Regions from separate parts of the Homo sapiens genome. Here region 1 is linked to region 2. Evidence: fine-mapped expression QTL. Tissue or cell type: whole blood. Region 2 holds a variant in brackets; the other region holds the start of a gene. All regions are shown on one strand. Distances are between the middles of the regions.

What was found. PIP is the estimated chance that this variant, and not a neighbour inherited with it, causes the effect.
Region 1: it holds the start of SYTL2, and the variant in region 2 is fine-mapped to the expression of SYTL2 in whole blood (INTERVAL, PIP above 0.99).

Annotation. Positions count from the first base shown.
Region 1 is chr11:85,808,614-85,813,613 of GRCh38, forward strand. SYTL2 (synaptotagmin like 2) reads right to left here and starts at 2,528. Exons shown (of 20, transcript NM_206927.4): 1 at 2,341-2,528. RefSeq lists a silencer at 2,487-2,666.
Region 2 is chr11:85,584,772-85,593,287 of GRCh38, forward strand. The region is part of intron 3 of DLG2 (discs large MAGUK scaffold protein 2); the gene reads right to left. Among named protein-coding and RNA genes, the nearest start is that of DLG2, 38 kb to the right of the region's middle. The variant G/A (reference allele first, on the strand shown) is at 4,643.

The DNA.
Region 1 (5,000 bases), 220 kb after region 2:
GCCCCTAAGAATATATAACAATCTGCCAGGACACCAGTTTTATTCAGATATTTTGAAGAAAAAACTTTATATTTTTAAATCAAAGTCCATATATTATGAAATCAAATGAAAAAAATTGCATAAGCACAGGAGCATGTGTTGGTCTTCTTTTCCATTGCAGGATCTTCTATGGAAAAGTTTGGTAAGCCCTAAGACAAACATTATAATCTTATCCCCCCAACTTTTGAGAGAGTGACAACCTCATTAATACCAAGTAAGTTTTCCTCTTAATTTAAAAAAAAAAAAAGCCACATTTTTCTTCATCTACTGTATGTTTAAAAATTCTTTGTAAAACAGGTGACAAGCAAACATATTTCCAGGGAGCTCTGGAAGCCTATACAGGCACAGTTCACCCTACCTCCCTTGCCCAAAGAGGAGAAACACCTAGACTAGCATCTGGGTTTTGAAGATGGTGGAACCTGGGCTTCCCCTAGGCTGCCTCACATTTCTACAAGGCAGCAGACCACTCTGCACAAGGTGCTAATTCATTCATTCCACAAATGTTTATTGAGCAAAACCTGAAAAAGGCCTCTTAGGGGACAGTGGAATCATTCACCAGCCAACGGTTAGGGCTAACGGGTCAGATGTGGACAATCAATCTTTCATTAGACCCCAAACCACCTCTAGGATAAAGCAAACAGGGCCCTGCCCCACCCACGCACTAGCAGCTGGGCAGGATTAGGGTAGGCCTTCTAGAACAGTACTGCTGCTGAGAGGCTAAGGCAGTCACAGATTACCTCCAGAATAACGGAAACTCCTGCACCATAAATGACATAATAGCTCTAAGATGTTTTGCATAGTGCCTGACACCTGGTGAGAACACAATGTTAGACATTTTTGCTCTCCTTATTCCAGCTTGCTCTTACTTAAGGAGCACAAAGACAGTGTAAAGAACACAGGTTTTAGAATCAGAGATTGGATTTGAATTCCAGCTATGCTACTTCCTAGCTAAGTGACTAAAGGAAGCAATCTTTCTGAGCCTGTTTCTCACCTATAAAATAGGGTATAGTACATCACCCCTCATGTGGCTTTGTGAGAATTAAGGATATATTACATACAAAGAAGTGTCTGGCCCATAGTAAGTGCCCACTAAACAGCAGTCAACATTGCCCTGCTGCCGTCCCCACACCTCTTCTCCTTCCTAGCTGCTCTTGATGGGTTCTGCAATCTGATTTCACCTGGATACCACACTAAGGGTGAGAAGGGGCAGAACTTCAGGGGTGGAGGAAAGTGAGGGAAGGGAAATGCTGGAGACCTTCCATAGAAATCCAGCCAAGTCCTCAGCTCCTTTCAATCATCCTACTCTATCTGGCTGCTCCATCCAGCAGACAGCAGGGGTCACCATCCTGGTGGGGAATGGCTGCCAACAAGGGGACGGGAAGCTGGATGGCAGTTTGCATCCACCCCACCTTCCAGGGTCTATCTGTCTGAAGCCCCACCGGGCTTCCTCTGCACATCCCTGCCGGGCTGTGTGGCTCAGGGGGCTGACAGGGTGATTCATAGCCTGTTCTTATCTAGGCTTCTATCTCAACCCTGCGCCCAAAGCCCTGGAGGCTGCTGGTCACAAACCAGCACTAAATGAAAAGAAGAACTTTTCATTAAGGCAGGAAGTGGAGCCCCTCAAGGTCAAAGGGGATTTATAAAGAGAGGAGGAAAGAAAGGGAAGACGCGGCAGGATGGGTGCAGAGAAAGAGAGACCCACTTCCTATATGCTGGTGGAGCCCTGTGTCTTAGACGCTAAAAACAGTCGCTTTTCCACTTCAAAGGATGATAAAGCCCACTCGTGTAGTTTATAGCTCGCCGTGGGACGAGGTGTGGGTATGGAAGAGAATTCCAAAACACGTCTTATTTTCAAAGGAGAAATCATCATCCCCTGGCCGGCCCTTCCCAACACCCCACCTGTAAACAGGTGCTGACGCTCCTACCTTTCTGCACCTGAGCAATCTGGGGGCAGTTACTCTGCAGCCAGGTCTCCCCAGCACCCAGCCCCAAGCCCAGGTCAGTCCCTGAAAGCCCTAGAAAACGCGATAGCTCAGCAGAACCCTCGCCTACCCGGGCATCCCAGCTTCCTGGCCGCCTGGGCAGCGGAGGTGGCTCTGGAGTAGGTGGGAAACTGAGGAAAGGAGCTTTCCCCGTGCCAAAACGCAGTTCCCATTTTAGAACTGGTTAGACTAAGGAACAACATTCTACACCACCTCCCTCACTTAACAGAGGAGGAAGCAGAGACCAAGAGAGGGAAACAAAGTTGCCCGAGGTAACACAGCGAGTGGGCCAAGTAGAGACTGGAACCCGAGTGCGCACCTCCGAGTCGCTGCCGGGCAGGGAGCGCGCCTCGCCGTCTCTCTTGTCTTCTGGCCCCCAGCCCTCGGCCTGGCGGTGCAAACCGCGCAGCCCCGGGCGCGGCGCGTTACCTTCCCCCGGGCAAGGCGTTGCGAGCCTTCACTCTCCCGACGGACGCTGGCGGCACGGCCCGGGTGTCGCCCGGCACTGTCAACGCAGAGCGGCGTGCGCGAGTCCCTCCCCGCTACCCCCGCCCCCGGCGGGCGGTGCGGTGGGGCCGGTCCCGGGTGCTCGGGCCAATGGCGCTTCGCCCGCTCCCCGCCCCGGCCCGCCCCGGCCTCCTCGCCCGGCACACAGCGCCTGCCAGCCCCTGCCCTCTCCCCTTCCCTCCCTTCGCCCTCCGCCCCCGCCTGCTGCTTCTCTCCGGTTCCTAGCCTCCTTCTCAAGTGTACCTTGCCCCGAAACAACCTGTTTTCTGTGCAAATAAAGCAGCACTGTTGTTATTGTTATTATTATTTTTATCACGGCGCGTTAGGGGGCCTTGGAGCCCGAGAGTGTGGAGCACTAGGAGCCTCTGCACTCCGAGAAGGGACAGCCACCGCGCAGGGAAAGGGGCGCGGAGGGTATGGAGCCCGGTCATGGGGTAACTTGCTTTAACCCTCGGGACGTCAATTTCCTCACATGTGAAATAGAAGAAGGGGGGAAAAAAGTTGTTGAGAGGACTAAATGAAGTGATGCTTTAAAATACAATAATACCTAGAGAAAGGTGAGGGCGTCATGCACTGCCTGAGCTACTTACTGGGGTATGCACAGAGGACTGGTAAGCTCCTGGAAGACGCTGTGTGGCAGGGAGGCAGACAATGCAATACAGTAAATACAATATTGTGGTCGGGCGCGGTGGCTCACACCTGTAATCCCAGCATTATGGGAGGCCGAGGCAGGTGGATAACCCGAGGTCAGGAGTTCGGGACCAGCCCGGCCAACATAGCAAAACTCTGTTCTAATTAGAAAAGAAAAAAGAAAAATTAGCTGGGTGTGGTGGCGAGCGCCCGTAGTCCCAACTACTTAGGAAGCTGAGGCAGGAGAATCGCTTTAACCCGAGAGGTGGAGGCTGCCGTGAGCCAAGATCGCACCACTGCACCCCATCCTGGGTGACAGAGCAAGACTCTGTCTCAAAAAAATAAATAAAATAATTTAAAAATTGTATCACGACCTATTTTTTACAAGTTACCCATGATGGGGCCAGCCCAGGCAAACCTCTGAAGGAGATGAACCTTAAAGCCTTTTTCCTTATCATTTCCTGGACTAGTGTTGTCCATTTAACTGAGGGTGGCCCAGGTCTGCCTTTGGTTCTTCCAAAGGTCTTCCTTCTCCCAAACTTACAAATACTTATCCCCAAGGGCTTCAGTTAGTGCCCAGTGCAGGCTGCTAGCCTGGCCCAAGAGTCCTGGCACTGTGCAGAGATGTGTATTCTGGCTTCCTTCAGCCTTTGAGAGCCTGGTGTGTCCCTGTGCTGGGTGAGCATGCCACATGCAAAAGAGGAATAAGCCACTGGTCTTGCCTTTGAAGAAACAAATTTGTAAATAATTTCATTTTAGGGTAAGTGTTATAATAGGTTGACAAAGTGTTGTAGAGTCACTACGCTGAAGGAGGGGGACAATAAAAAATACAAATGTGACCAAGGTAGGTCTTGAAGGAGGGCTACAAATTAGGTCAGATTGAAGGGGTGACAGAAGACTGGGCACAGAGAGGCAGGCAGAGACATGGAGATGCCTGTCATATGTCACGGCTATTGCACAGGATTTGGGACAATGAGGCAGAGATGAAGCTAAGGAGGTAGGTGGGCAGATGTTGGAGGAGTGGCTGTACCTGCCTTGCTGAGGGAAGCAGGCTGTGTCCTGTTGGTGATGGCTGTTGGCGAATGATTTTAGGCAGGGGAGTAGCGTGACCTCAGATGCTTTTGGTACTTCACTTTTATTGTTGATTGCACCTGCCTTGGTTATCCCCTTCCTGCCCCTCTCTAGCTCTGGAGGGCAGGCACTGGGTCTTGCTCACCTCTGGGTGCCTTGTATCATCTGGCATAGGACTTTGAAGGAACTAAATACATGCTGTTCCCAGTATCACTCGTCCCCTGGAAACAAATAGCAATGCCTAAATGCTAGAGAGGGTCACAGGATCCTTGCTTCAGGTTGTGGGGCAGGCAAGTGGGGGAGAAATTTTAAGGCAGGGTCTTGTTATGGCTCCCAATTCATCTAAATCTTGTATGGCTCAGAGACTAAATCTTAGAGCTCTTGGCCAAGATCCAAATGCTGTTAGAAATGTCAATTTCTAATAAGACCTTAGACCAATTACTCAACCTCCCTGTGCTTCAGTTTGCTCATTTGTTAGAGAGAAAATAATTGCACTGCTCTCTCAGGCCTACTGTGAAGATTAAAAGAAGATGCACATGTTTAGCATGATGCCTTGCACATACAGTGCACTGAAAAAGCCTTGGTTAACACGATCATATCAAGTCAGCAATGGCCTGTTCCACTTATCCCATAGGAACCCTTCAAAATGGTTTACATATAAGTGACACTTAAACTTTAGAGAATTCTAGGTTGACATTGAAGGGGAAGGCAAGAGGGTAGGGATAGCATGGTGTAAGGTTAAATGCACAGACTTTGGTGTATCTCCTGGCT
Region 2 (8,516 bases):
TATGTTTGTTGGTCTTTTCCATATCTTCTTTTGAGAATTATCTATTCATATCCTTAGCCCACCTTTTGATGGGATTACTTGTTTTCTTCTTGCTGATTTGTTTTCATTCCCTGTAGATTTTGGATATTAGTCCTTTGTCGAATGTATAGACTGCAAAGATTTTCTCCCACTCTGTGGGTTGTCTGTTTACTCTGCTGATTATTTCTTTTGCTATGCAGAAGCTTTTTAGTTTAATTAAGTTCCATCTATTTATCTTTGTTTTTGTTGCATTTGCTTTTGGGTTCTTGGTCATGAGGTCTTTGCCTAAGCCAATGTCTAGAAGTGTTTTTCCAATGTTATCTCCTAGAATTTTTATGGTTTCAGGTCTTAGATTGAAGTCTTTGATCCATCTTGAGTGGATTTTTATATACGATGAGAGATGAGGATCCAGTTTCATTCTTCTACATGTGGCTTGCCGATTATCCCAGAACCATTTGTTGAATAGGGTGTCCTTTCCCCACCTTATGTTGTTGTTCGCTTTGTCAAAGATCAGTTGACTTTAAGTATTTGGCTTTATTTCTGGGTTCTCTGTTCTGCTCCTTTGGTCTATATGAGCCCTACCTAACTTTTTAATTCCAATTTGGATGCCCTTTCTTTTTTCACTTGTCTGATTGCTCTAAGTAGGACTTCCAAAACTATGTTGACTAGAAGTGGTGGAAATGGGCATCCTTGTCTTGTTTCAATTCTCAAGGGGAGTGCTTTCAACTTTTCCCCATTCAGTATAATGTTTGCTGTTGATTTGTCATACACAGTTTTTATTACCTTAAGGTATGTCCCTTCTGTGCTAATTTTGCTGAGAGTTTTAATCATAAATGAGTGCTGGATTTTGTCAGATGCTTTTTCTCCATCTATTGAGATGATCATGTGATTTTTGTTTTTAATTCTGTTTATGTGATATATCACAGTTTTTTTTTTTTTTCTAAGATGGAGTCTCACTCTGTCACCCAGGCTGGAGTGCAGTGGCATGATCTTGGCTCACTGCAACCTCTGCCTCCCAGGTTCAAGCTATTCTCCTGCCTCAGCCTCTGGAGTAGCTGGGACTACAGATGTGCACCACAATGCCCGGCTAATTTTTTTGTATATGTTTTTTGTAGTGACAGGGTTTTGCCATGTTGGCCAGGCTGATCTTGAACTCCTGACCTCATGATCCACCCTCTCAGCCTCTCAAAGTGCTGGGATTACAGGCGTGAGCCTCCACACCCAACCTGTATCACATTTATTGACTTGCAGATGTTAAACCATCCCTGCATCCTGGTATGAAAACCACTTGATTATGGTGTATGATCCATTTGATATGCTCTTAGATATTGTTAGCTAGTATTTTGTGGAGGATTTTTGCATCTATGTTCATCAGGGATATTGGTCTGTAGTTTTCTTTTTTTGTTATGTCCTTTCTGGGTTTTGGTAAATCCCAGAATGATTTAGGGAGGATTCCGTCTTTCTCTATCTTTTGGAATACTGTCAATAGGACTGGTACCAATTCTTTGAATGTCTGATAGAATTCAGCTGTGAGGCCATCTGGTCCTGGACTTTTTTTTGTTGGTAACTTTTTAATTACTCTTTCAATTTCGCTGCTTGTTATTGGTCTGTTCAGAGTTTCTATTTATTCCTGATTTAATCTAGAAGGGTTGTATATTTCTTGGAATTTATCCATCTCCTCTACATTTTCTAGTTTGTCCACATAATGGTGTTCAGAACAGTCTTGAATGATCTTTTGTATTTCCGTGGTATCAGTTGTAATAGCTCCCATTTCGTTTCTAATTGAGCTCATTTGGATCTTCTCTCTTCCTTTCTTGGTTAGTCTCACAGTCTATCAATTTTGTTTATCTTTCAAATAACCAGGTTTTGTTTCATTTCTCTTTTGTATTTTTTTGTTTTGATTTCATTTGGTTCTGCTCTGATCTTTGTTACTTATTTTTTCTGTTAGGTTTGGGTTGGTTTTTCTTTGTTTCTCTAGTTCCTTCAGGTGTGACTTTAGATTGCCTATTTATGCTCTTTCAGACTTTTTGATGTAAGCATTTAATGCTATGAACTTTCCTCATAGCACTGCTTTTGCTGTGTCCCAGAGGTTTTGACAAGCTGTGTCACTACTATTGTTCAGTTCAAAGAATTTTTTAATTTCCATCTTGATTTCATTGTTGACCTAAAGATCATTCAGGGGCAGATTATTGAATTTCCAAGTATTTGTATAGTTTTGAGGGTTCCTTTTGGAGTTAATTTCCAATTTTATTTCACTGTGGTCTGAGAGGGTACTTGATATTATTTTGATTTTCTTAAATTAATATTGAGACTTGTTTTGTGGCCTATCCTATGGTCTATCTTGGAGAATGTTCCATGTGCTGATGAGTAGAATGTATATTCTGCGGTTTTGGGGTAGAATGTTCTGTAAATATTTGTTAAGTCCATTTGTTCTGGGTATAGTTTAAATCCATTGTTTCCTTGTTGACTTTCTGTCTTGATGACCTCTCTAGTGCTGTCAGTGAAGCATTGAAGTCCCCCACTATTATTGTGTTGCCATCTATCTCATTTCTTAGGTCTAGTAATAATTATTTTATAAATTTGGGAGCTCCAGTGTTGGGTGCATATATATTTAGGATTATGATATTTTCTTGTTGGATGGATCTTTTTATCATTACATAATGTCTCCCTTTGTCTTTTTCAACTGTTGTTGTTTTAAAGTCTGTTTTGTCTGATATAAGAATAGCTACTCCTGCTCACTTTTGGTTTCCATTTTCATGGGGTATCTTTTTCCACCCCATTACCTTAAGTGAGTTCTTATGCGTTAAGTGAATCTCTTGAAGAGAGCAGATACTTGGTGGGTGGATTTTTATCCATGCTGCCATTCTGTATTTTTTAAGTGAGCATTTAGGTCATTTACATTCAACATAAGTACTGAGATGTGAGGTACTGTTTTATTCATCGTGCTAGCTGTTGCCTGAACATCTTGGGTTTTTTCTTTTTGTTAGTGTTTAATAGGCCCTGTGAGATTTACACTTTAACGAGGTTCTATTTTGGTGTATTTCGAGGTTTTGTTTCAGGATTTAGATCTCGTTTTAGCATTTCTTGTGGTGCTGACTTGGTAGTGATGAATTCACTCAACATTTGTTTGTCTGAAAGATGACCTTATCTCTCCTTCATTTATGAAGCTCAGTTTTGCTGGATACAAAATTCTTGGCTGAAATATACTGTGTTTGAGGAGGCTAAGGATAGACCCCAATTCACTTCTGGCTTATAGGGTTTCTGCTGAGAAATCTGCTGTTAATCTGATAGGTTTTCCTTTATAGGTTACCTGATGCTTTCGCCTCACAGCTCTTGAGATTCTTTCCTTTGTTCTTGACTTTATATAACCTGATGACAACTATGTGACTGGGTAATGATCTTTTTGTGATGAATTTACCAGGTGTTTTTTGAGCTTCTTGTATTTGGATGTTTAGTTCTCTGGTGAGGCCAGGCAAGGTTTCCTCAATTATGTTTCCCAAACTTTTAGATTTATCTTCTTCCTCAGGAACACCAATTATTCTTGGGTTTGGTTAACATAATCACAAATTTCTTGGAGGCTTTGTTCATTTTTTTTTCTTTGTCTTTTTTGGATTAGGTTACTTCGAAAGCCTTGTCTTCAAGCTCTGACATTCTTTTTCCTACTCATTCAACATCATTGTTGAAACTTTCTGGTGCATTTTGTATTTCTCTAAGCGTGTCTTTCACTTCCAGAAGTTGTGATTGTTTTTTCTTTACAATATCTATTTCTCTGTAGCATTTTTCATCCATATCCTGTATTGTTTTTTAAATTTGTTTAAATTGGTTTTCCCCTTTCTCTGGTATCTCCTTGAGTAACTTAATTATCAACCTTCTAAATTCTTTATCTGGCAATTCAGAGATTTTTTTTTATTGGTTTGAATCAATTGCTATGAAGCTAGTGTGGTCTCTTAGGGGTGTTGTAAAACCTCATCTTGTCATATTTTCTGATTCCTTCTCATTTGGGTAGACTATTTCAGTGGAAAAATCTGGAACTCAAGGGCTGCTATTTAGATTCTTTTGTCCCATGGGGTGGTCCCTTGATGTGGTACACTGCCCCTTCCCCTAGGGATGAGGCTTGCTGCAAGCCAGACTGCAGTGACTGGTATTGCTCTTCTGAGTCTAGCCACCGAGTACGGCTACCAGGCTCCGAGCTGGTGCTGGGGAATGTCTACAAACAGTCCTGTGATGCGATCCACCTTCAGGTCTCCCAGCCATGGATACCAGCGCCTGCCCTGTTGGAGGTGGCAGGGGCGTGAAATAGACTCTGTGAGAGTCCTTGGTTGTAGATATGTTTAGTGTGCTGGCTTTCTCAAATGCTGGTTATGCTAGCAGTGACACTGTCACGTGGACAGATTTAGGACCACTGGTTAGCCAGGATGTTGCAGGGCACACGGAATTAGCTGTTGTTTTCCTCTTCCTTGGAGCAGCGTTATTCTGTCATTGAGTTGCTGCAACGTCCTGAGTTGGTCAGACTACAGGCAGAAGGTGGTGCTTTCAAGAGAGCACCAGCTGTGATAGAAGAGGGGGGATATAAGCTTGCCCTAAGTTGACCAAGATAAGTGTTCAGGTTTCTCAAGTAATGGGC[G/A]GGGTCATAAAGCTCCCAAAAGTTTATGTCTTTCATGATCCACTACTGGGTATAGAGAAATACTGTCAAGTCAGGGCAGGGTTAGGCAGATCTGAGCTCAGACTCCCCTTGGGTGGGGCTTGCTGCAGCCACTGTGGGGGTGTGGGAGGGGTGGTTCTCGGGTTAAATTCCAAAGGGGATTATGGCTGCCTCTGTTGCCAGGAAAGTGAGGGAAAGCCAGTAGCGATAGGCCCCACCCAGCTTTTACCCAGTTGGTGAGGCCTGTCTCACTCCCACTGTGCCATCTAAAACCACTGAGTTTGTCTCCAGGCAGCCTGCACATGGGACTCAGACCTAGCCCCAAGTTATAAGTTTCCCAGCTGAGAAAGCAAGCAGGGCTTTCAGGTTACACCCCTCCCCATCTGCCCACATTGTCCCCCATGACTCCTCCTCTCCTTTCTGCCGCAGTTCCTGCTTGCCCCCACATTCTGCTCAAGAGAGTTTGTGCCCAGTCAAAATTATTGTAAAAATCACAATTACTTTTGCGTAGTATCTAAACATTTTTTAATATAGTATAATAATATGAATTTGATCAGCTCAAGAAACTTCTAATGATTTTAACTGTTTAATCCAAATAACCATTTACTTCAAAGGACTCATCACAATTATACTTATTTAATATCTTACTTGTTTAATGTAGTAGACAATGAGCTCCATGAAAACAAGGTGTACATCTCTCTCATCACTAAAACCCCAGAGCCTAATGTGGTGTCTCTTTGATAGTGGGAGATCAAATGTATTTTTTCAAATGAAAGAAATTTAATGAAGAACTGTTCATTCCATGCCAGATTTGGCTGAATTAGAACTGGTCCCTGCATTCAAGAAGCTCACAGTCTGCTGAGGGAGAGCAACATGTAATCAATAAACAATAGTACAATATAATAAGTGCTGTGCCAGAAATATAAACAAATACCATAGAAACATAAGGGAAGAAGTGATTAATTCTGCTTAAAGGTAGAAAATATTAAGAAGTTTTTGACCAAGTAATAAATACTCATTTCCTTGGGATGGATGTTTATACTAAGAAATAATGTCTATATCACATTCTATTAACTTGATTAGTTCCACAGTTCAGTAAAACATATTCTATATTGAAAAATTTTTTTAGATATTACTACGCTATTTCAGGACATCTTGAAAGGGCTTATTCCTAAAATAATCTTTTAGAATTTTTTTTATATTCTCTCTCTCTCTCTCTCTATATATATATATATAAATTCCCTGAAAGTAGTTCAACAACAAAAAGTAAAATTCAAGGCTATAATATTAATAATACTAGTTTGCTTGCTATAGGAAAACCTAGATGAGAAAGCCTATTGCTTTTTTGCCAGCTACCACATATTAGTTACAGTGATCATCACCAAATTTTCACTTATTATGTACTTAACAGAAATCACCAGATCCTTTCACACTCCCAACAATAGCTTTGGGGTTTCACTATCTCACTATATAGGGAAATCTCATATGCACTCAAAATAAAAGATTTTTTTCCTATATTAGCTACAGCACAAATAATAGCATCCTTCATTTAGAAACAACCAGCCTCATACTCATCTAAAGCACATAAATTTAGTTAAATGGTGCCATCTGGTGACATAAATCTTGCAGTAAATATAAAAGTCCTGAGTCAGAGTCCAGAATGATACCCAACCCTCTTGATGGCATCCAATCCAAAGTGTCTAATTTAACTTAAGAAATACTTGATCCTGCCTGACATGAAACACACAACTAATCACACTCAGTATATGGCCGTTTAACAAAGGGAATTATAACAATTGTTTGAGCCACATTTTATGCTCACCACTCTTGTTTCTCAACTCTTTGGAAGAGACTTGTATCTAACAGGATGCCCTATACAACTCCTAGAAGACATTTTAAAAGCATAAATATCAAGGACATTTTGAATCCCTGTTCCAGGCAGATCCATTTCCTCACTCTCCTTTGAACGTACATCAATGTGTATAATTTTCAACACTTCAAAATGTCACTTCCTTAAGAAAGCTGTCGACCAGGTGTGGTGGCTCACGCCTGTAATCCCAGCGCTTTGGGAGGCCAAGGCAGGCAAATCACAAGCTCAGGAGTTCAAGACCAGCCTGGTCAACATGGTGAAACCCCGTCTCTACTAAAAAAAAATACAAAAATTAGCTGGGCGTGGTGGCACATGCCTGTAGTCCCAGTTACTCAGGAGGCTGAGGCAGAAGAATCCCTTGAATGGGAGGTGGAGGTTGCAGTGAGCCAAAGATCAAGCCACTGCACTCCAGCCTGGGTGACAGAGCTAGACTTCATCTCAAAAAAAGAAGGAGAAAGCTGTCCCTGTTTCTACTGTTAAGGTTAAGCCTCTCATTCATAGCCAACTCTACTTCTTCTTTGTATATAAACTCTTGACGAAATTTTGTTTAATGCTTGTCTCCCCAGTGTGTATCATAGCGTTTGGCAAAGTGTTCAATAAATATCCTGTGAACGAATTAATGTGTAAATGGATGGTGAAAACATCCTTCTCTACTCTCTCTTCTAATGCAAATCCTATTAATAACAAGGCTCAGCTCAAGTTTACATTTTATATAAAACCTTCTCTAGCAACAACAATGTACAATAAGCCCATGCTTCTCCTATGCCATTTTAGTCTAGCCCCAAAAATTTAGTCCTCCACTATATGATGTTTTGTATTGTTTTTCATGTACATAAATATTACTTTCTTAATTGACCTTAAGCTCCTTAAGTGTAGGCATTTGGTCTTAATAGCATCCATCTGCATAAGTCTATGTAAATAAGTAAACACTTCATAAATACTTTGATAACTATTATTATTCAATTGCAATAACTAAAACACTTGTACTCTTTTTATTTAAATAAGTATTGTAAACAAATAAGTAGAAACATAATAGACCTTAGCAACTAAGAATTTCACCTTCACTGTTTTGAACAGTCAAGACTTATTTAAAGATCCATGATATGTAATTTGTTTGTTTCAACTGAAGCACATGCTTTGAGATTGTGAGTGGCAGCAAGCATTACCTAGGAAATGCCTCTCTCACATGGGCCAGCAACAACATATCAATGTAGCTTTATCCATAGAGATACTTATTGTAACAGAATTCTATCCATAGAATAATTATTGTAACATAAGTAGAAACTATCTTGTAACATAAATAGAAACTATCATTAATTATCCAAAGAGAAAAAAATCCCTTAAATGTTTTAGATATTCTATTGTAAGGCTGGGTGTGGTGCCTCATGCCTGTAACCCCAGCACTTTGGAATGCCAAGGTGGGAGAATCACTTGAGCCCAGGAGTTCAACACCAGCCTGGGCAAAATGGTGAAGTCTCCTTTCCGCAAAAAAAATTCAAAAATTAGCCAGGCATGACTGCGCATACCAGTAGTCCCAGGTACCAGGGAGGCTGAGGTGGGAGGATTGCTTGACCCCAGAAAGCAGAGGTTGCAGTGAGCTGAGACTGCACCACTGCACTCTAGCTTGGGCAACAGACAAGACTGAGAAAAAAGAAAGAAAAGAAAAAAAAAGAAAAGAAAAGAAAAAAGAAGGAAGGAAGGACGGAAGGAAAGAAAGGAGGGAGGGAGGGAAGGAAGGAAAATAAAAAGAAAATTAAAAATAAAAAGATATGCTACTATATTTTAAAAAGAAAATTGGACACCATAATGATAATTGTGAGTTTATGGATTACAAAGTACTCAAGATATGTCCCAGAATGATAATGGCTCATTATAGTCGTTACAGATTAAATCAGATCCTATAAAACACAAGAAGGAAAAAATGCCACTGTCATATTCTCCCAAGTTTAGTAATAATATTCACACACTGTTAATATATTACTTTCC